2 separate regions of the Homo sapiens genome follow, and region 1 is linked to region 2. The links come from fine-mapping of genetic effects on gene expression. Tissue or cell type: tibial artery. Region 2 holds a variant in brackets; the other region holds the start of a gene. All regions are shown on one strand. Distances are between the middles of the regions.

Region 1 (10,347 bases), 100 kb before region 2:
GGGAGGCAGAAGTTGCAGTGAGCTGAGATTGTGCCACTGCACTCCAGCCTGGGTGAAAGAAAGACCCTGTCTCAATCAATCAATCAGTATAAAAGACTTTCAGAGGACAATTGAGGAAATTTGAATATGGCCTGAATATTTAATGATATTAGGGAATGATTATGAACTTCCTTAGGATGTTGATGTTCCTTCAGTTATGTAAAAGAATACCCTCATTTTTAGAAGATGCTCTGGCAGTGTCTGCAATTACTTTTAGAAGGCTTAGCCTCCCATCTCCCAAAATATATTTCTATACATATATACACTCACACACAGGTTGATAAAGCAAGCATGACAAAATAAACAATCATTGGGTCTGTGTCGTGGGTATACTGGTGCTTATTATACTATTGTTTCAACTTTTCTGTATGTTTAAAATTTTGTCTTAATAAATGTTAGAAAACAGAGAGGCAAGATGGTAAGCAAGCTATTCTTCTCTACCCAGAAAGGAAATTTCTTTCTCTTGCATGTAGTGATAAAAATAAGTTATAAAACTCTTTTTCTGACCCATTGAACCAGTTAGTGGGGATTACTGAGGACTCAAACACCCCTCTATAACAGCTTTTGGGGACAGTAAACATACTGAGGACAAAGCATAGCCCTCTTATATTGGATATCATTTACACCGTCCTTTGAAAATCTTACTATTCCCAAATCAAGAATCCTATCAGCACATTGCTAATAAATTGCTAAATATAGCTAGTATTTGCTTATTTATCATTTTAATTTTTTTAAGAGATGGGGTCTCACTATGTTTCCCAGGCTGGTCTCAAGTCCCTGGGTTCAAGCAATCCTCCTGCCTCAGCCTCCCGAGTAGCTGGGACTACAGGCACACACCACCACACCCAGCTTCCATTTCAGTTTTTTCAGTAAAGTAAAATCCTTTAGCTTGTTTAGGTTGCACTCCAGTACAGAAATAGAAAAACAAAAATCTCATCTGGTATGACAGCCATTGATCCTTCTTATGGGTTCAAATCCATCCCTTAGAAGTTCAGTTTTTAAGAACCAGCTACTACAGGGAGGTGCTAACAACCTCAAATTTCTAGGATGTAAATTTTCATACCCTCTGCAACTGCTGCCTGGCCTCAGATGAGCCCCCTGTACTTAACTCAAGCACCCCTGTCCACTGATGCTGACTTATGCAAGTCAACACACCAAATCCCACAGCCACGGCTTTTCAGAAAAATAGGAATGGATTCTTCTCCCAAGTTCATACAATTGAGGGTTTTTGACAGCAATAAAAATAGCTTTGGATAAACCTTATAACCTGTGGTGTTGCTTCTTCATAAAGGTAAGCCAGTCATTTGACATTATTCAAATTTTTGTTGTTGTTTTTAGATAGTGGTGCAGGTGACGTATAAGAAAAACAGGTATGAATCCCAGCACTTTGGGAGACCAAGGAGGGTGGATCACCTGAGGTCAAGAGTTCAAGACCAGCCTGACAAACATGGTGAAACCCCATCTCTACAAAAATTAGCCAGGCATGATGGGTACCTGTGATCCCAGCTACTCGGGGGCTGAGGCAGAAGAATCACTTGAACCCAGGAGGCGGAGGTTGCAGTGAGCTGAGATCATGCCATTGCACTCCAGCCTGGGTGACAGAGCAAGACTCCATCTTAAAAAGAAAAAAAAAAAAAAGAAAAGAAACACAGGTATGAAGGCAATAAAGCATGATGTATGTAGTCTGGCCACGCCACCATCCCTGCTGCTCTGGACAGAAATCAGAAGCAGCAGCAGATAGAAGCAGAAAATCATCAAAACTTTACACATGAGGTACTGCTATTCCTTCCTCAACAAGTGTATTAGAATATAAACTTGACAAATTGGAGCTTTTCCATAGGTAGGTAGCAACAGAGAGAAGCATCACCCCACAGTTTAAAGTTTATGTTACTTGGGAAAAGACAAACATGAAGTATGAGTCTGAAAATTAGTTTCAAGAACTCTCAACTAATTGATTCTCTCCCAAACTGAAAACACACTACAGCAAGGCTAAAACGTAAAATAAAGTGAACTTTAATCTATAATATACATGAAAATGTGAAAGAACATGTTTCCTTTTGATTTTTGTAAGGAAAGTAAGTTTCAGTGTGAGTGAAACATATCTGAGAGAACAGGAAAGTCTTACCTAGGTACAAGGAGGAGTTTTCTTTCTTGACATTGTCATCTAAGTAGGTTGGTCCCAGGGTATAAATAGGTGTGGAGCCCATTCCAATGAGAATCTGCGCGCAAATGAATAAAGCCACGTAGACCCAGTGATTATTTCCTCCCGAGTCCTTCGGACAGGCCGGAGGCTCCAAAGTGGCGGTGGAGTTGCCACCCTGACACAGGCCGTCGTTGGGGGCCGAGGCGTTCAACTCTTGGATCTGGTAGGGGGGCGAGATGAAGTGAGGTAAGGCGAAGAGGGCTGCCCCGAAGGCGATGAGGAGTCCACCCACGGCCAGCCACAGGGGCCGCCGACCCCGGCCGCCGAAGTAGCTGACGAACACCACCACCACCAGGTTCCCGATGTCAAAGCAGCTGACCAGCAGCCCCGACTCGGAACTCTTCAGACTGTAGCGCCTTTCAATGGTGGTAATTACGCTGCTCAGGTACCCAGAGACCATTAACGCCTGGATGAAGGTCAGAAAGCACATGCACACCAGGAAGCAACGGGAATCCGTGAGGACCACGTAGAGGCACCTTCTCTCCTGGAGCATGGCCAAGGCGGAGGACACCGAGAAGGTTTTGCTGAGGTCCACCCTGTGGTTACAGTCCCCGAGCCCCGCCGAAGTGGACGGGGCAGAGGGACTGGGGGCCAACGGGTTCGGGCCTTGCTTCAACTCCTGGTGGCCCGAAGAATCCACACAGCCAAAGGCCGGGTTGGCGTCTCCACTAGTGGGACTGAGGCTTGGCCGGCAGGAGGCGCTGCTGAGGACCGGTAAACTCTTAGACCTGAGGGTCTCCGGCTCGCACCTCTCTTGGACAGCTTCTGCAGTGGCCGGCGCCTCCAGCTGCTCTCCCGCCCCGGGCTGCAGTCCAGTGCCTTCGTCCATGGCGCTTAGAATTCAGATTTGATAGCTGATGGCACCCAAGCACTCCGGCACGTTTCATCCACCGGCACGAGGGGCCGAAGCCGGGCCCAGTCAGTCTTGCCCACCTGGGACTGGGGCTGGGGGCGCAGGGCCGCGCAGCAGGGCATCCTCACCAGCTGCGAGGCGCCCAGTGCATCCTGATCACAGACACGGCTTCAAGGCTCCGCAGCCGCGTGCCACAGGGGGCAGGGGTCCGCGCGGTACTGCGATGAGCCCTACTCGGCGTCCCTCTCCGGGCGGTAGCTTGAGGCAGGCGCCTCGCGCGTCCCGGGCTCATCCCCTCCGCCGCCGCCGCCGCCGCCGCCGCTGGGCCCGCGGCCAGGAGCGAGTGCACCCTGCGCCGGGGGTGGGGGGGCACTTAGCGCTGCTGTCCGTACAGCATCCCACCTCGCTGCGCCAGGGGTACCGGGTGTTCGCCGCCTGGGCTCGCGGCACCCTCGGGAGTGAAGCTGCCGACCTGCAAAGCAGAAAGAGGGCGGTCAGCGAAGAGCGGCTGCGGCTTGGGGCTAGCGTCCCAGCGCCCCGGGGACCAGGGTTAGGTGACCCCGAACCGTCCCTAGAGGGACGGAGGAGCTAGTCAGGAGCGGAGCCCCGGAGGACTAGGCAGCAGCCGGCTGCAGTCTCCAGTCCCGGAACAATAAGCAGCAGGCGGTCGGCGGAGACTCTCCCTCATTGTCTGCCGCGGACCTGCCCCCGTCCCGCCCCTTCTGCCTTAAACATTGCGTTTGCTTTTATATGTTAATAATTATCAACCTGGCAGCTCTGACTCAGAGGCAGTGTCTTTTAATCGAGTGAACTAACTGCAGCCTTTCCGTACTCCTACTCCATTACTCAAAATAGAAAATGCCCAAAAGAACAAAGGAAACTTTTTCACAGACACACAATGTATTCCCTGTCCCAATTTTTCTAAAAGGAAAAAAGAAGGTGGGGGTAAACTACGTGTGTAGAAATGTGTGTGCACACTGGTGTGCGTTGGCACGTGTGCGCGACTAGATTTGAATCTGTCTGCTCCACCAGAGACACACATTCAAAGCCGAAGGCAGCAGCAAAAAGGTCAACATGCTTGCCTCTTTATTCCCAACACCAAAAATAACCCCCTGACCGAAAGAACTCTTCAATTACAAATACCAGGGGCATTCGAGGCTGTGGCCCGCACTAAGTCCCAGAGCGCGGTATCAAACGAAACCGAAAATCCGTCTGCTTTGCCGAGAGCTAGGGAAGCCACAACCAAACAAAGAGATCCCGGCACGCTGTCAGAGAGCGCGCGAGGAGCCCACGGAGCCGGCTGGGCGCACGCGGGCCGGCGGGGAGGTGTGCTATTGACTGAGCGCACCCCGCTAGCGTGGGCCTGGGGAGCGTGTGCGCGTGCGCGGCCACACACACACACACACACACACACACACACACACACACACACCGGCGTACTGGAACCTCTCTCGCGATCCCGCACCCAGCTTGAATTCAGCAAGAATCGAAAACAGGTGTGCCCCCGTGGTAAGACCCCGCCCCTAATCTTGGGGACCCCCACTCCACTCCTCCAGCCTGGGGCAAGGACGGGGGGCGGAATATGCACCAGGTGGGAGACAGCCGAGCTTCACTACACTGGGTTTCATTTTGCAGCGCGCCTTTGTGATGCTGCTGAGAAAAGAAAGGAGGAAGGGCAAGGGAGAAAGGCAGAGAGGCTGGGCGGCCAAGGGTGGCCGCTCCGGCATCTCCCTCGGCTGTGCTGGGCCAAACCCGCTCCCAGATTCCCGGCCTGCCAGCCACTCACAATCCCGGGCTTCCCCGCCGCTGCCTTACCCAGGCGCCTTCCCGGGGAACCCCACCAGCCGCTGCGTGAGGAGCCGGGGAATCCCAGCAAACTCTCGCCGCTCGCGGGGGGCGTCCGAACCCCCTGCTTAGGCGAGCGCCCTCACAGCATCGCAGACTCGGATGGACACGCGGATCCCGGCAGGGAGCTCTTGGAGCAGGCGTGGAATCCCAGGGACACCCCCTGCGCGCACATCACATACACGCACATCCTACACACACACACACACACACACACACACACACACACACACACACAGAGCCCGTGGGAAGACAAGACCGCCGGCGACAGCCCGCCGCGCTGCCCGGGCGCTCAAGCCGCCGCTACTCACTAGCGAGTCTGTCAGTCTGTCTGCCTGGCTGAGTAGAGCGGCGGGAGGGGGGCACTGAGCTACGGGAATAGTTGGGAGCCGCGTGAGGAGGCAGCCTCCGTCCAGCCGAAGAGAAATCAGTGAATGAGACTGTGACTCAGGCTGAACTCTTCCCCCCACCCCTCGCCTGTCACCCAAGCCTCTCCTCCGCTCCAAACAGACACACGCGCACAGAGACGCGCCCGGAGAGGAGCAGCCGAGGGCGCAGGCGCGAGGGCAGCCACCCAGCCCAGCCCTCCCACAGCCAGCCACCCCGCTGCCCTTCACCTGCGTGGCTGCGGGGGCCCAAGAGCGCTGAAGCCCCGAGGGAGCCGGTCTCTAGAAAAGTCAGCGGCTGAAGCTGACAGCCCACTCTGAATAAATAAATCATTTCTGATCGTTTATTCCGTGCCTTGGGCACACACCATGTCTCATTCACCATAGTAGATTCTGGGACCAAAGATAAACAAGACAAGATACTTGGTCGGAGGAAACCTCTGGCTTGTGGGGGAAATACTCATGTAAATGGCTTAAAACAACGTGGTACATCTATGCAGCCTGCTACTGGAGTAGCCAATATCCATTAGCCTTCATTTCCACGCAGCAGGAAGAACAGAGGCACGGGGGCATGGTGCTGCCAGTCAATAGGTAGATAAGCTTCCTAGAAGATTGCAGGGATGGGGCAGAGGACCAGACTGCAAGAGTGGCTGAGTAGAAAGGGGCACTACGGGTTTCCTAAGTTGTGTACTGTCAATAATGTGGGGGCAATGACGTTCTGACTTCCTCACCAGAGAGCTGGCTCTGGCAGTGACAGGTAGACAGATGTGAGGCCACACTGCGGGCACAGAAGTGAGTTGGGAGGCAGTCTGAAAGCAAAATGTGATGAGGCATTGGCAGGGGGCATGGAGAGGAGGGAACTGGGCAGCTGATGCAATCTGCAAGAGAAGAAAACCAGCCGAGGTAGGATGACTCCCAAGTTTCTAGCACCAAGTTGGGTGACTACGTGCCTGACAGCCAATAAAAGCACAGGTGGAGAAACATGCTTTAGGAGAAAGATTGTTCTCATCTACATGTGTTGAGTTTGAAATGTTTGGGGGACATCCCAGTGTACGTGTCCCATAAGCCACTGGACACACAGGAGGTTTGGACTAGGAATATTGATCAGTAGTCATCAGCCCAAAGGTGGCATGAGAAAGGATGGAATGAATAGGGAAGATCATCCAAATTGTGAAGAATCTAGGAGGACAGCGTACAGCCAAAGGAAGGAGACTGGAAGCAAGGGTCAGAGAGGTGTGGGACGCATCAGAAAAGCCAAAAGAGCAGACGACTGTAAGAAGGGAAGGGTCAGATGTGTACAGGCTGCAGGGAAGACAAACAGGATGATAACTGAAAAAAAAAAAAAAAAAGAGTATCTGAGGGCACTTGTGACCATTGACAGAGCAGGATAGTGCTCTAATGGAGGAAAGGAGGTTGCTCACAAGTACCAGTGACCATGCTGGCCATTGCTGCCAGGTCGAAGCCCCTCCACTGGCCCTTGGCCTTGCCCAATGAAAGCATTGTCTCCATTTTACAGATGTGATAAGTGTAGAGAGGTTAAGTAACTTTATATAGGCACACAGCTGCTCTGTAGACAATATGAACCAATGTGCTCCAAAAGACTATGTTCTTACTTAACCTCTTAACCCTGACTCTCTACCCTCTCTCCTGCCATTGAATAACATCCTGACTCGTCAATGCACCTTGATTCTTTTGATTATCTCCCTTTAGTCCAACAACCGTCGTATCTACAGCGATCCTTAGAGAACAATTAAGGCCAGTTGACAGTAAAGAACAATCAGTGTGTATTTGAAGTCCATGCTGAGAGAGCATCAATCTTCTGGCAGCTGCAAGACTGACCTATCAACCGAGGCATTTCTTCATTCCCTGCCATTGTCTCCTCCTCTTGAGATCGCCATCAGGCACAGTCACTTTTCTACAAACAGGCAATAGGACTCCCGCTGCCACCCTGCCCAGATTTTAGTCCTCTACTGCTGATAAAGTGAGCAAAGATACGTGGCACTTCCTGAACCCAAATACTCTTCTGAGCTGATTCTAAATCCACACAGAATCAACCTACCTCCTATTACCTCCTTCCAAGCTCTGTGTCCCATTCTCTCATTTCAGTCTCAGCTCCAGACATCAGTGAATTCAATGTGATACATCAGGGGACATCACAGGACTTCCCTACTTGAAAATCAAGCAATCGTGTCCCTGAAACACTCTGTCTTTATTCATGCTCAGTTACCGTAAAGTAGATGCAACTCTAAGAACCTATGGATTTTTTTATTGCCACTAATAGATCATGATTTACAGCAAAATTTTAAAAGGTCCAATTTTACTCACATAAGAAGAAGAAAACATTCAGCAAGAAGCATTTCTTTTGCTTTATCTTTCCCAGTTAAATATGACTTTAAAAAAGACAAAATTTTAAAAGGTCCAATTTTACTCACAAAAGAAGAAGAAAACATTCAGCAAGAAGCATTTCTTTTGCTTTATCTTTCCCAGTTAAATATGACTTTAAAAAAGACAAAATTTTAAAAGGTCCAATTTTACTCACATAGGAAACAAGAAGAAAACATTCAGCAAGAAGCATTTCTTTTGCTTTATCTTTCCCAGTTAAATATGACTTTGAAAAAGAAGAGCACACCTCATTAGCCGTAATTGTCTGATTAATACAAAGAAATGGACTCATATCACGGGGTTCTACTACCCCTATGGTAGTGTTTACTATCCTTATTTCACTCAATAATTACAGTTACTTTAACCAGAATGCCTGCCTTGTTTGGCATTTTGGGAGAGGAAGCATATGACTGTAAACCCTCTTCAAACTTTCAGACTTACGTTTGCTTCTTCTAAGTCCATCGACTTTATACATAAATGACTTCTTTTTAAAAATAAATAAATAAATAAATAAATAAATGATTTCTTTCCTGATCTTCATATAACAAGTATGTAGCCTTTGCAATTTCCAGGGCAGTCTACAGGTTTAAAATCTGGCCGTCCTGGAGAATGGGCAGAAGAAAGCTGAAGGGAGCCTTTTCCCACAGCCCTTCCCTTCCTTCTTAAAGAAGGTTCACTTCAGAGGTCTCCCAGATACAACAAGAACTGAGTTTTTGGTTCAGAATATTTTGTGGGTGCAAAACATAATACATAGTTGCCAGTAACATAATTGAATTAGGTGTTGGTTGTTTAAGAGGAGACACATTGTATCTTTAAGGTAGCCCCTTAATAGAACTTGGCATGTATATCCTTCCTTAGAAGTGAATTTCAGGTTGGGTAAAACCTGAGAAGGAACAGATCTGGCCCTGGGGTACAATGAATGCAGGCAATCACTCCAGCCCTGGTGGCTTGAGGGCCCTGCAAGTGCTAAAGGAGTATAGTGACCAACTGTGTCCAAAGAGACTTAGCACTGCAAGTCCCACACCCCCAAGAAACCACAGTTCCATGAACACCTGGAGGCTTGGCTCCCTATAAAGAAACTGCCACCTCCCTTAATATAATTAAGCCAGATTAGCTGGGTACTGTGGCTCACACCTGTAACCCCAGCACTTTAAGAGGCTGAGATGGGAGGATCCCTTGAGAACACATTTCCACTAAAAAAAAATTTTTTTTAAATAGCCAGGCATGGTGGCATATGCCTGTGGTCTCAGCAACTCAGGAGGCTGAGGCAAAAGGATCACTTAAGCCCAGGAGGTAGAGGCTGCAGTAGGCTGTGATTGCGCGACTGCACTCCAGCCTGGGCAACAGAGCAAGACCCTGTCTCAAAAAATAAACAAACAAACAAAAACCAACAACAACAAAAAATAATTAAGCCAGGCCAGGTGCAGTGGCTCATGCCTGTAATCCCAACACTTTGGGAGGCCGAGGTGGGTGGATCACCTGCGGTCGGGAGTTCAAGGCCAGCCTGACCAACATGGAAAAACCCCATCTCTACTAAAAATACAAAATTAGCTGGGTGTGGTGGCACATGCCTGTAACCCCAGCTACTTGGGAGGCTGAGGCAAGAGAATCACTTGAACTGGGGAGGCGGAGGTTGCAGTGAGCCGAGATCGCACCATTGCACTCCAGCCTGGGTAACAAGAGTGAAACTCCATCTCAACAATAATAATAATAATAATAAAGCCAGATACTCCAAGGCTAGTAATGGAGGGAAACTTCCCTGTGAAGAGGAGACAGTTGTCTTAAAAAAAAAATCATGTTCCCTTGAAAGATGTTTCATAATTACCACCACTGCCACCTTGGCCTGGAAAAGAAAGTGGTCGGATGGGAAGGGGAAGGAAGCAGGTTAGAAGAGGCAGTCCTCCATGGGCTGTGAGCATCTCTACATGTTTCTCTTGGGTGCACCTAGAATGCAAAGCCCTAACCACTTCTGAATGCAGAGAAACTCAAACTGCATTGTCCTCTGCTCTCATACCGCAACAATCAACACAAAAGACTTCTGTGACCAGATGTTGGTGGGCAGTCTACACCAACAAGCAATCAGTTCTGCAGAAGACACCAGCTGGGCATCCTCCAATTCAACTCCGTTCTGACACTATCTACCTCAAGATAGCATCACATCCCAGAGGTTGAGGGCTCAGTCCCACAAAACTGCCTCCTCTCTCCCCTAGACCCAGAGTCAAGTCTGGGCCTCCAGAACATCTGACCAACTAGCTTCAATTTGGGATTCCCACAACCCCTCTTTGGGTTTGATTAATTTGCTGGACAGGCTCACAGAACTCAGGGAAACGCTTACATATACCAGTTTAATACAAAGGATATCAGAAAGAACACAGATGAAGAAGTGCACAGGGGAGGTATGCGGGGAGGTGCACAGAACTTCCATACTCGCTCTAGGTGCGCCACCCCTCAGAAACCTCCACATGTTCAGCTGTCCCAGAAGCTCTCTGAACCCTGTCCTCCTGGGCCTTTTTTGGAGACTTCCTTGGATAGACATGACTGAAGACAAACATGTCAGACGGTGATTGGACAAAAAGCAGAGGCTCTAATACTGATAGACTGAGTGGGGGAAACCCAGCAAGCCCTGTCTGACCATATTC
Region 2 (10,347 bases):
TATTGAAGAAAGAAGAGTATTTGCCTATGTCCATACCACCTTGACTGTAGCCAGTCTCTTCTGATCTCAGAAACTAAGCCAGGTCAGGCCTGGTTAGTACTTGGATAGGAGAATCCTAGGACTACTGAGTGCTGGAGTCTTTAAAGGAAAGAAGAGTGCTGCTTTATAAATTAAATTTTATATTAATAATAGTAATAAAAAATTATTATTATTAATAGTAATAATCTCTTGTTATTAATAATAGTAATAATGTATTGGTAGTAATAATAGTAATAATGTGTTGTTATTATTAAATGCTTTATTATAATATATAAAGTCACTCAACTCACCCAGAACAACTTCCAGTCCTGTGAGTTCCATTCACGGTAAGTGCCCCCTATACAGGTGTACCATTTTTTGTCTTTTATACTGTATTTTTACCGCACCTTTTCTAGTTTGGATACACAAATACCATTGCATCACAGTTGCCTACAGTATTCAGTACAGTAACATACTGTACAGGTATGTAACTATATCACGGAGCCCAGGTGTGTAGTAGTCTATACCATCTAGGCTTGTAAGTGTACCCTGTGATGTTCACACAATGACAAAATTGCCTAATAACTCATTTCTTAGAACATGTCCTCATCATTAAGCAACACATGACTGTATGCATACACACACACACACATATGTATGTATGTATGTATGTATGTATGTATGTATGAATGTATAATTTAAGGAGTCAATTAACCATAACAGGCAATTGACAGTAACAGTTAAGGCCATGGGACCTGGGGTCCTCGGTTTGGAATCCCCATTCCATCACTTACTGTGTGACCCTGAGGAATTTACTTAACCTCTCTAAGCCTTAGTTATAAGACCCAAGTTTAAGAAATACTACTCTTGGCCGGGCGCAGTGGCTCACGCCTGTAATCCCAGCACTTTGGGAGGCCGAGGTGGGTGGATCACCTAAGGCTGGGAGTTCGAGACCAGCCTGACCAACATGGAGAAACCCCATCTCTACTAAAAATACAAAATTAGCTGGGCGTGGTGGCTCCTGCCTGTAATCCCAGCTACTCAGGAGGCTGAGGCAGGAGAATTGCTTGAAACTGGGAGGCGGAGGTTGTAGTGAGCTGGGATCACTCCATTGCACTCCAGCCTGGGCAACAAGAGCGAAAAAAAACAAAAAAAAAAGAAAGAAAGAAATACTACCCTTAGGGCTGAGTGCGGTGGCTCACACCTGTAATCCCAGCACTTTGGGAGGCCGAGGCAGGCGGATCACAAGGTCAGGAGATCGAGACCATCCTGGCTAACACAGTGAAACCCAGTCCCTACTAAAAACACACACACAAAAAAAAATTAGCCGGGCGTGGTGGCGGGAGCCTGTAGTCCCAGCTACTCTGGAGGCTGAGGCAGGAGAATGGCATGAACCCCGGGAGGCAGAGCTTGTAGTGAGCCGAGATTGTGCCACTGCACTCCAGCCTGGGTGACACAGCGAGACTCTGTCTCAAAAAAAAAGAAAAAAAAGAAATACTATTCTTCAGTTTATTTACTTTGTTCATCAAATATTTAGTGAGATTCAATTATCTGTCAGTGCCTGGAGAATAAGGTGAACCAGGTCCCACCTCCATAGAAATCTAATGTGCAAACAGGATTTATGCACTCTAGGTACAGTCTAAGCCGGGTCTAGCTCATCGTCAAATAACCTTCAAATATCCAATACATATTTCCAATGAGACATGACTTTTGCGAGTGTTTTACTGGATCATAGTTGTCATGGAAATAGGAGTGAGTTAATATTAGTATTACCTAGCATATGGTAAAACTATGATTATGAAGAAGATGTTATTCATGCAATTGTTTAAATTGTTTAAATTTCTGTGAAATGAGCCTATGTCCTGGATCCCATTTTTTTTTTTTTTTTTTTTTTTTTTTGGAGACACAGTTTCGCTAGAGTGCATTGGCGTGATCTTGGCTCACTGCAACCTCCACCCCCCGGGTTCAAGCAATTCTCCTGCCTCAGCCTCCCGAGTAGCTGGGACTACAGGCACCCATCACAACGCCTGACTAACTTTTTGGATTTTTAGTAGAAACAGGGTTTCACCATATTGGCCAGGCTGGTCTCGAACTCCTGAACTCATGATCTGCCCGCCTCAGCCTCCCAAAGTGCTGGGATAACAGGTGTGAGCCACTGCACCCGGCAGATCCTGAATTTTTTTACATTTTTATTTATTTAATTGTAGGGAAAAACCTTGTTTTTAACAAAAGCATTTCCCCTTGACTGATTAAGTACCCATATAGTCAAAATACATGGGTACTTAATCCTGGGGATTTTGCCAGGCTTTAGCCATAGCGCTGGACCCAAAGTCTCACTATGCATTGTATGTTTACAATGCTACACTCAAAATAAAAAATACAAAAATAAGGAACAGAGCTGAATGTATAGCCACCTCAGGAGATACTTAAGATTGTTTTTATTTATTCCTTTTTAATAAACTTACAATGTGACTTTCTTAAGAGTGGCTTGCTTTACGAAATCAATACTCAGCAAATATTTGAGTATTTGATAAAAAATATACTAAATGCTAAAATGCAGACTTGGAAGTGGGGCGAATTTGAAGATTCCAAACAACTGGTTCCCAGTTAATAGAGGTTTTAGCTGGGCGCAGTGGTTCATGTCTGTAATCCCAACACTTTGGGAGGCCGAGGCAGGTGGTTCACCTGAGGTCAGGAGTTTGAAACCAGCCTGACCAACATGGTGAAACCCTGTCTCTACTAAAAATACAAAATTAGACGGGCGTGGTGGCAGGTGCCTGTAATCGCCCCCCCCAGAAAATGGAAACCCTTCTATCTTTGTGAAAATTATGTAAAAATGACTTCCTCTTGTTAGTGGAGCAGGCTGCCTGCCTCCCTCCTGCTGTGCAGAACTATGTCGGACTGTAGCCATGCAGGAGCCTTTTCTACCTAGTAACCAATAAATAAAAAATTAAAAAAAAAAACAAAACCCTTTGTCATTGGCCAGATCTCTATTTGGAAATAGGCATAAATTCACTAGCCTTACTTTAGCTACTGGAATTGCATCTTAGCAGAGAGAGAAGGAAAAGAACACAGCTTTTTAGAGCACATTATGCATCTAACTAGTGTGAACTTCACAGCAGACTAGTCATAGCAGATAAGTGAAGACGAAGAAAAAGTAGTACTTAATGACACAGCACATTTACCTCTTTAATTCACAGAAACGTCTGGTGTTGTCCTAGTTCATGTAGCCCAAAGTGGGCCAGGGGATAGATTTTAAAAAGCAACAACACTTTGGCTTGATATTTTGTTTAAAAACAATGTTAGCCAAGCGTGGTGGCTCACTCCTGTAATCACAGCACTTTGGGAGGCTGAGGTGGGAGGATCACTTGAGACCAGGAGTCAGGAGTTAGACACCAGCCTGGGCAATACAGTGAGACCCTGTCTCTACAAACAAACAAAAAAATTAATTTAAAAATTAGCAGGGTGTGGTGGCTCATTCCTGTGGTCCCAGCTACTTGGGAGGCTGAGGTGGGAGGACTGCTGGAGCCCAGGAGTTTGAGATTGCACTGAGCTATGATCTCACCACTGTACTGCAGCCTGGGTGATGAAGACAGACCTATCTGTAAAAAAGATAAAATAAAATACTTTGAAAAATAAAAAACAATGATGTGAGCTCATCCAGAGAAAGTTTGTAGAGAAAGCCCTTCAGGTGTCCTGTGTTGGCCAGCTCAGAATGAGGGAACTAGCACCAATACTTTGAATTTTCCTTCCTAGGGCTCCTTTTTAAGGCTTTCACAGCAGCTTTACTCATTTCATATTCATCTTCCCAAGAACCCTCTATTGGACTAG[T/TA]AGGATTTATACAAGAAACTTGGCCATAGAGGGATTTAGTGACTTGTCCAAGGTCAAAGTGAGTTTTCAACTAGTCCAGGAATCAAGTCCAGGTTTCCAGCCCTACTGGCAGATCCCCCTTCACATACTGGAAAACATTCTTTCCTTCACCCATCCCTTGCCCTGTTCTATTCTCAGACTGTGTTGATGCCCACGCTGAAAATAGAATCTCCCTACCACTGCCAGAGCTCTTCTCGTCACTGCCGGGCAGTGGGAGAGTTATAAGAAGGTGGCAATGGCCCATTCGGGCTTATCTCCAGAACTGCCCCCAATTATGACTGCCAGATTTAGCAAAAACAATAATATGAGATAACCAGTTAAATTTGAAATTCAGATAAGCAAAGAAAATTTGTTTAGTATAAGTATGGCACATGCAATATTTGGGACATGGGACACACTTACACAAAACATTTGTAACTTATCTAAAATTCAGATTTAATGGGATGGGTTATGCCTGTAATCCCAGCACTTTGGGAGTCCGAGGCGGGTGGATCACCTGAGGTCAGGAGTTCGAGACCAGCCTGGCCAACATGGTGAAACCGTGTCTCTACTTAAAATACAAAAATTAGCTGGGCGTGGTAGTGCACACCTGTAATCCCAGCTACTGGGGAGGCTGAGGCAGGAGAATAGCTTGAACCAGGGTGACGGAGGTTGCAGTGAGCCGAGACAGTGCCACTGCTCTCCAGCCTGGGAGACACAGCAAGACTCCATCTCAAAAAAAAAAAAAAATGTAACGGGATGTCCTGTGTTGTGTCTGGCAATCCTGCCCCCATCCTTCCCCACATCTACCCTGGCACCCACACACAGGATTATCTCAAAGGTAACACCTTCACCCAGGACACAAGGAGCAACACACAGATGTCTTTCCTTCCAAAACCTAGGAAAGTTCTTTTCAACTCAATTATGCAAAATGATTCTGCAATGAATACCTCAGATAATTAGGCTCCTAGGTATTTTATAGACTTTTTTTTTAACTGCAATGATATTTATGGATTTTTTTCCAAATACAAAAGTAATATATATGTATTTCCAAAGATGGCTGCAACTATGTCTCCCATCCCACTTTTCCACAAAGTGACCAAGAGGTGGTATCTGTGTCCCTTTCCTCATAAATATGGACAGGTTTAAGACTTGTAGAAGTTCAAACTGAATATGGATGTCTTGAATATGGATAGGTTTGCGACTTGAAGTATGGACTGGCTTGTGACTTGCTGAAATTCAACTTCTATTGAGCTGTCATGAGAGTCCAACTACACCGAGGCCAGCATGCTGGTGGTAGGAAGCCAGGCTACATGGAAAAGCCACAGGTAGGGGCTTCAGAAGGCAGACCAGTCTTTTTTTTTTTTTTTTTGAGATGAAGTCTTGCTCTGTTCCCCAGGCTGGAGTGCCGTGGCACAATCTCAACTCACTGCAACCTCCACCTCTCAGGCTCAAGCAGTTCTTATGCGTCAGCCTTCTGAGTAGCTGGGACTACAGGCATCTGCCACCATGCCTGCCTGATTTTGGATTTTAGTAGAGAAGGGGTTTCACCATGTTGCCCAGGGTGGTCTTGAACTCCTAAGCTCAGGCGATTCGTCCACCTCGGCCTCCCAAAGAACTGGGATTACAGGCGATGTCAGAGATCCTATATATCTTTTTGTTGTGTTTTGTTTTTTTGAGACAGAGTTTCACTCTTGTTGTCCTCCCTGGCTGGAGTGCAAGGGTGCGATCTCAGCTCACTACAACTTCTGCCTCCCGGGTTCAAGCAATTCTCCTGCCTCACCCTCCCAAGTAGCTGGGATTACAGGCATGCACCACCACGCCCAGCTAATTTTGTAATTTTTTTTTTTTTTTTTGACATGGAGTCTTGCTCTGTCACCCAGGCTGAAGTACAGTAGCACAATCTCAGATCACTGCAACCTCTGCCTCCCGGATTCAAGCCATTCTCCTGCCTCAGCCTCCTGAGTAGTTAGGATTACAGGCGCCCGCCACCACGCCCATCTAATTTTTGTATTTTTAGTAGAAACAGGGTTTCACCATGTTGGCCAGGCTGGTCTCGAACTCCTGACTTCATGATCTGCCCGCCTCGACCTCCCAAAGTGCTGGGATTACAGGCATGAGCCACTGCATCCAGGCTAATTTTGTATCTTTTTTAGTAGAGACCAGGTTTCACCATATTGATCAGGCTGCTCTCGAACTCCCGACCTCCAGTGATCCACCCGCCTCAGCTTCCCAAAGTGCTGGGATTACATGCGTGAGCTGCTGCGCCTGGCATCAGACCAGCCTTTAATGTCCTCCTAGCCCAGGTGTCAGGCAGGTGAGCAAATTAGCCTTCTGATTATTCCAGCCTCCAGCTGTTTAGTCACTTCCCAGCTAAGATCTGAGACAGGATGAAGCAGAAACAAGCCATCCCCACTCTGACCTTCCAAATTCTTGATTCCAGAACTTGTTGACATAATAAAATAATTGTTCTTTTATGTCACTAAGTTTACAATGGTTTATAATGCAGCAATAATAACTAGAACATAAAACCTGCTTGTTGCAGAAACTTCAAAAAAGAACATAATCGCCTGTAATTCTATATGCAAAGGCAATTGCTTTTAACAGTTTGAGCTATGTGCTTCCAATATTTTTCTATGGCCATATGGACACATTTTTCTACTTAAGCAAGCACAGTATCATAGAACAGGTACCATTCTATGCTCTGATTTTTTACCTTGACAACATTAATTGAAAAATCAGCCAGGTGCCATGGTTCACGCCCGTAATCCCAGCACTTTGGGAGGCTAAGGCAGACGAATCAATAGAGCCCAGGAGTTCCAGACCAGCCTGGGCAACATGGTGAAACCCCATCTCTACCAAAAATAAGAAAATTAGGTGGGCTAGTGGCACATGCCTGTAGTTCCAGTTACTCGGGAGGCCGAAGCAGGAGGATCCCTTGAGCCTGGGAGATCCAGGCTGCAGTGAGCCATGATTGTGCCACTGCACTCCAGACTGGGAGACAGAGTGTGACCCTTTCTCAAAAAAAAAGAAAAGAAAAATCTTTCCATTTTATTGAACAATAGTGTCTTTGACAATAATAACTGAAATAGCTATTACTAAGAATTTACCTGTTTCTTTCTTTCTTTTTTTTTTTTTTTTTTGAGACAGGGTCTCACTCTGTCATCCAGGATGGAGTGCAGTGGCAAGAGCTCAGTTCACTGCAGCCTCTACCTCCTGGTTTCAAGCAACCCTTGTGCCTCAGCCTCATGAGTAGCTGAGATTACAGACGCACATCACCACACCCAACTGATTTTTGTGTTTTTAGTAGAGAAGGGGATTTACCATGTTTGCTCAGGCCGGTTTCGAACTCCTGAGTTCAAGTGATCCACCTGCCTCAGCCTCCCAAAGTGCTAGGATTACAGGCATGAGCCACAGCACCCGGCCTGTATTTAACTTGTTTCTAATTGTTTATTATTATAAAGACAACTGCAATAATAATCCTTACATATGCATCTTTGCATTCAGATGAAAATATAAAGAAAATATTTTTTCCTTAAGATAAACTCCTAGAAATGGAATTCCTGATCAAAAGTCTTGCATAATTTGTAAGGCTTTTGATACATATAAACTTTCCTCCAAAAACAGCTCTGCTTTTTATTAACAGGTTAAATTATTTTATGCTGCCAACAATAGTGCATGATTGCTTATGTTTTCACATTCTCACTAGCAAGAGATATAATGATCATTTTAAATTTTGGCCAGGCACGGTGGCTCATGCCTGTAATCCCAGCACTTTGAGAGGCCCAGGAGGGCGGATCATTTTAGGTCAGGAATTTGAAACCAGCCTGGCCAACACTGTGAAACCCCATCTCTACTAAATATACAAAATAATTAGCTGGGTGTGGGTGGTGCATGCCTGTAATCCCAGCTACTTGGGAGGCTGAGGCAGGAGAACTGCTTGAACCCAGGAGGTGGAGGTTGCAGTGAGCCGAGATAGCGCCACTGCACTCCAGCCTCAGCAACAGAGCAAGACTCTGTCTCAAAAAAAATAAATAAATAAAATAAAAAATAAATTTCACCAATTTCATGAACAAAAATGACAATTCAGCTGGACACAGTGGCTCACACCTATAATCCCAACACTTTGAGAGGCCAAGGCAGCAGGATGGCTTGGGCCCAGGAGTTTACAACCAGCCTGGGCAAGATGGTGAGACCCTCACTCCAGCCTGGGTGACAGCCTGACTCCATCTCAAAAAAAAAAAGATAGACCCAGTCTCCAAAAAAAAAAAGAAAGACAATTCACTGTTACCAGAGTAAACACTGCTTACCTGTTTATTAGCCATTTTTGTTCCTTTTTTAGCATGAATTGCCTCATCTTGTCCTTTGCCCATTTCTGTTGGAAGAGTTATCATCTCTTAGTGATTTTTAAAAGCAATTTCATTATTAATTATACCAATCCTTTCATATATGTAGAAAAAATGTTTGAGTTGGTCATCTGTCTTTTATTGAAGATGCATTTCAAATATCAAATATATTTGAAAGATAAAATAGCATCTGTGAAATTGAATATTATTTTATGTGCGCTTGGCTATGCCCTAAAATGTCAGTTTATTATCCCTAAAGACGTATTTATTGATGTTTACCAAGAATAGAAGTTGGCTGGGCACAATGGCTCACGCCTGCAATCCCAGCGCTTTGGGAGGCCGAGGCGGGTGGATCACCTGAGGTCAGGAGTTCAAGACCAGTCTTGCCAACATGGTGAAACCCCCTCTATACTAAAAATACAAAAAATTAGCTGGGCGTGGTGGCAGCCACCTGTAATCCCACCTACTCGTGAGACTGAGGCAGGAGAATCACTTGAACTCGAGTGGCAGAGGCTGCAGTGAGCTAAGACCATGCCACTGTACTCCAGCCCGGCCAACACAGCAAGACCTCCTCTCAAAAAAAAAAAAAAAGAGGATAGGAAAAGAGGCCAGGTGCAGTGGCTCACGCCTGTAATCCCAGCACTTTGGGAGGCTGAGACAGGAGGATTGCTTGGGTCTAGGAGTTCAAGACCAGCCTAGGCAACATAGTGAGACCCTGTCTCTATATTTAAAATATATATATAGAAGAAGAAATCAAACACAAAAGAAGTGGAGACAAGCAAAAAAAAGTACACACATTGAAACCAACTCTAGGGGCCGGGCATTGTGGCTCACACTTGTAATCCCAGGACTTTGGGTAGCTGAGGTGGGCAGATCACAAGGTCAGGAGTTCGAGACCAGCCTGACCAACATGGTGAAACCCCATCTCTACTAAAAATACAAAAATTAGCCGGTGTGGTGGCACACACCTGCAGTCCCAGCTACTCAGGAGGCTGAGGCAGGAGAATGGCATGAACCCGGGAGGCGGAGCCTACAATGAGCCGAGATCGCACCACTGCACTCCAGCCTGGGCGACAGAGCGAGACTTTGTCTCAAAAAAAAAAAAAAAAAGAAAAGAAAAGAAACCAAGTGTAGCACTCTAGCTGAAACAAAAAAGGAAGTGGTGAAGGGTGCAGACTTTAATAATAATAATAACAATTTTATTATATTATATATTGCAAAATATTATAATTGTTATATTTATGTTATAAATAGAATGTATTATAATATTTACATTTATATTATAGATATGATATATAGTCATTGTATTTAAAATAGTATATGTATTAAATATATTATTATATTTAATATAATAATTATAATAACTAACCTTTATTCAGCATTTTACTATGCACTTTATATGCATTTTGTCATATAGTTCTCCCAGTAACCCTTTAGAAGCTACTATTAATATTTCCAACTTATAATTGAGGAAGTGAGGCCTAACAGAGGTCCAATGACTAGTAAATGCTATCGTTGGAGGCCTGGTCTCATACCTCAGCCTGAATTCTCAAACACTAAACATTACCTCCTCCCCTGGACAACTTGCCCAGCTTCTGCAAATCTCACTTTCCGTACTTGGTCTTTTGAATATGAAATGACATCATGCACATGTGGTGTTTACACAGGCCTAGCATACAATAAATACACCCTCAACAAAGGCATGGCATCACCCTGATCATCTTCATCATCACCGCCTGGCCTCTAACACACCTCAAGAGCTGCCCCAGCATATCAGTGCACCGTTCTATACCAGCAGACATTTTTTCCTAATCATGCCTCACCATGAAATTTTAATACTACGGATATACCATGTATCTCTGTATGTACTGTGGCTCTTTGGAAGCCACAAACCATTGTAATATCTGTTGAAATAAATATCTGTGATTTTTTTGTCCCTTCTCTCCCCAGAATTAATTCCCACCTCTTAGTAATGATGTTCCCCCTTCACCCTCTCAAATCTCCCTCCTGAGAAGGCTTGGTCTATGTTACCTGGAAATCCTCTGATGAGCCTGTCTTCCATGTCAAGACCCACACCCTAATGTGGTTCCTCTATACAATATTGCCAAGGCAAGCCACAAGCAGATGCAGGACC

Alleles and levels. Alleles are on the strand shown, and positions count from the first base shown. SD is a standard deviation of normalised expression in the study named.
For the expression in tibial artery of the gene that starts at base 5,376 in region 1, allele T in region 2 goes with a lower level than allele TA (small effect, 0.36 SD a copy in GTEx).

The links. PIP is the estimated chance that this variant, and not a neighbour inherited with it, causes the effect.
Region 1: it holds the start of SLCO5A1, and the variant in region 2 is fine-mapped to the expression of SLCO5A1 in tibial artery (GTEx, PIP 0.98).

Annotation. Positions count from the first base shown.
Region 1 is chr8:69,829,603-69,839,949 of GRCh38, forward strand. SLCO5A1 (solute carrier organic anion transporter family member 5A1) reads right to left here and starts at 5,376. Exons shown (of 10, transcript NM_030958.3): 1 at 5,252-5,376; 2 at 2,165-3,567. The coding sequence starts at 3,071. It overlaps SLCO5A1-AS1 (SLCO5A1 antisense RNA 1), which reads left to right and starts at 4,510. Exons shown (of 4, transcript NR_186568.1): 1 at 4,510-4,591. RefSeq lists silencers at 3,352-3,441, 5,532-5,641 and enhancers at 3,632-3,701, 5,132-5,211.
Region 2 is chr8:69,929,883-69,940,229 of GRCh38, forward strand. It overlaps the pseudogene RNA5SP270. Among named protein-coding and RNA genes, the nearest start is that of SLCO5A1, 100 kb to the left of the region's middle. The variant T/TA (reference allele first, on the strand shown) is at 3,850.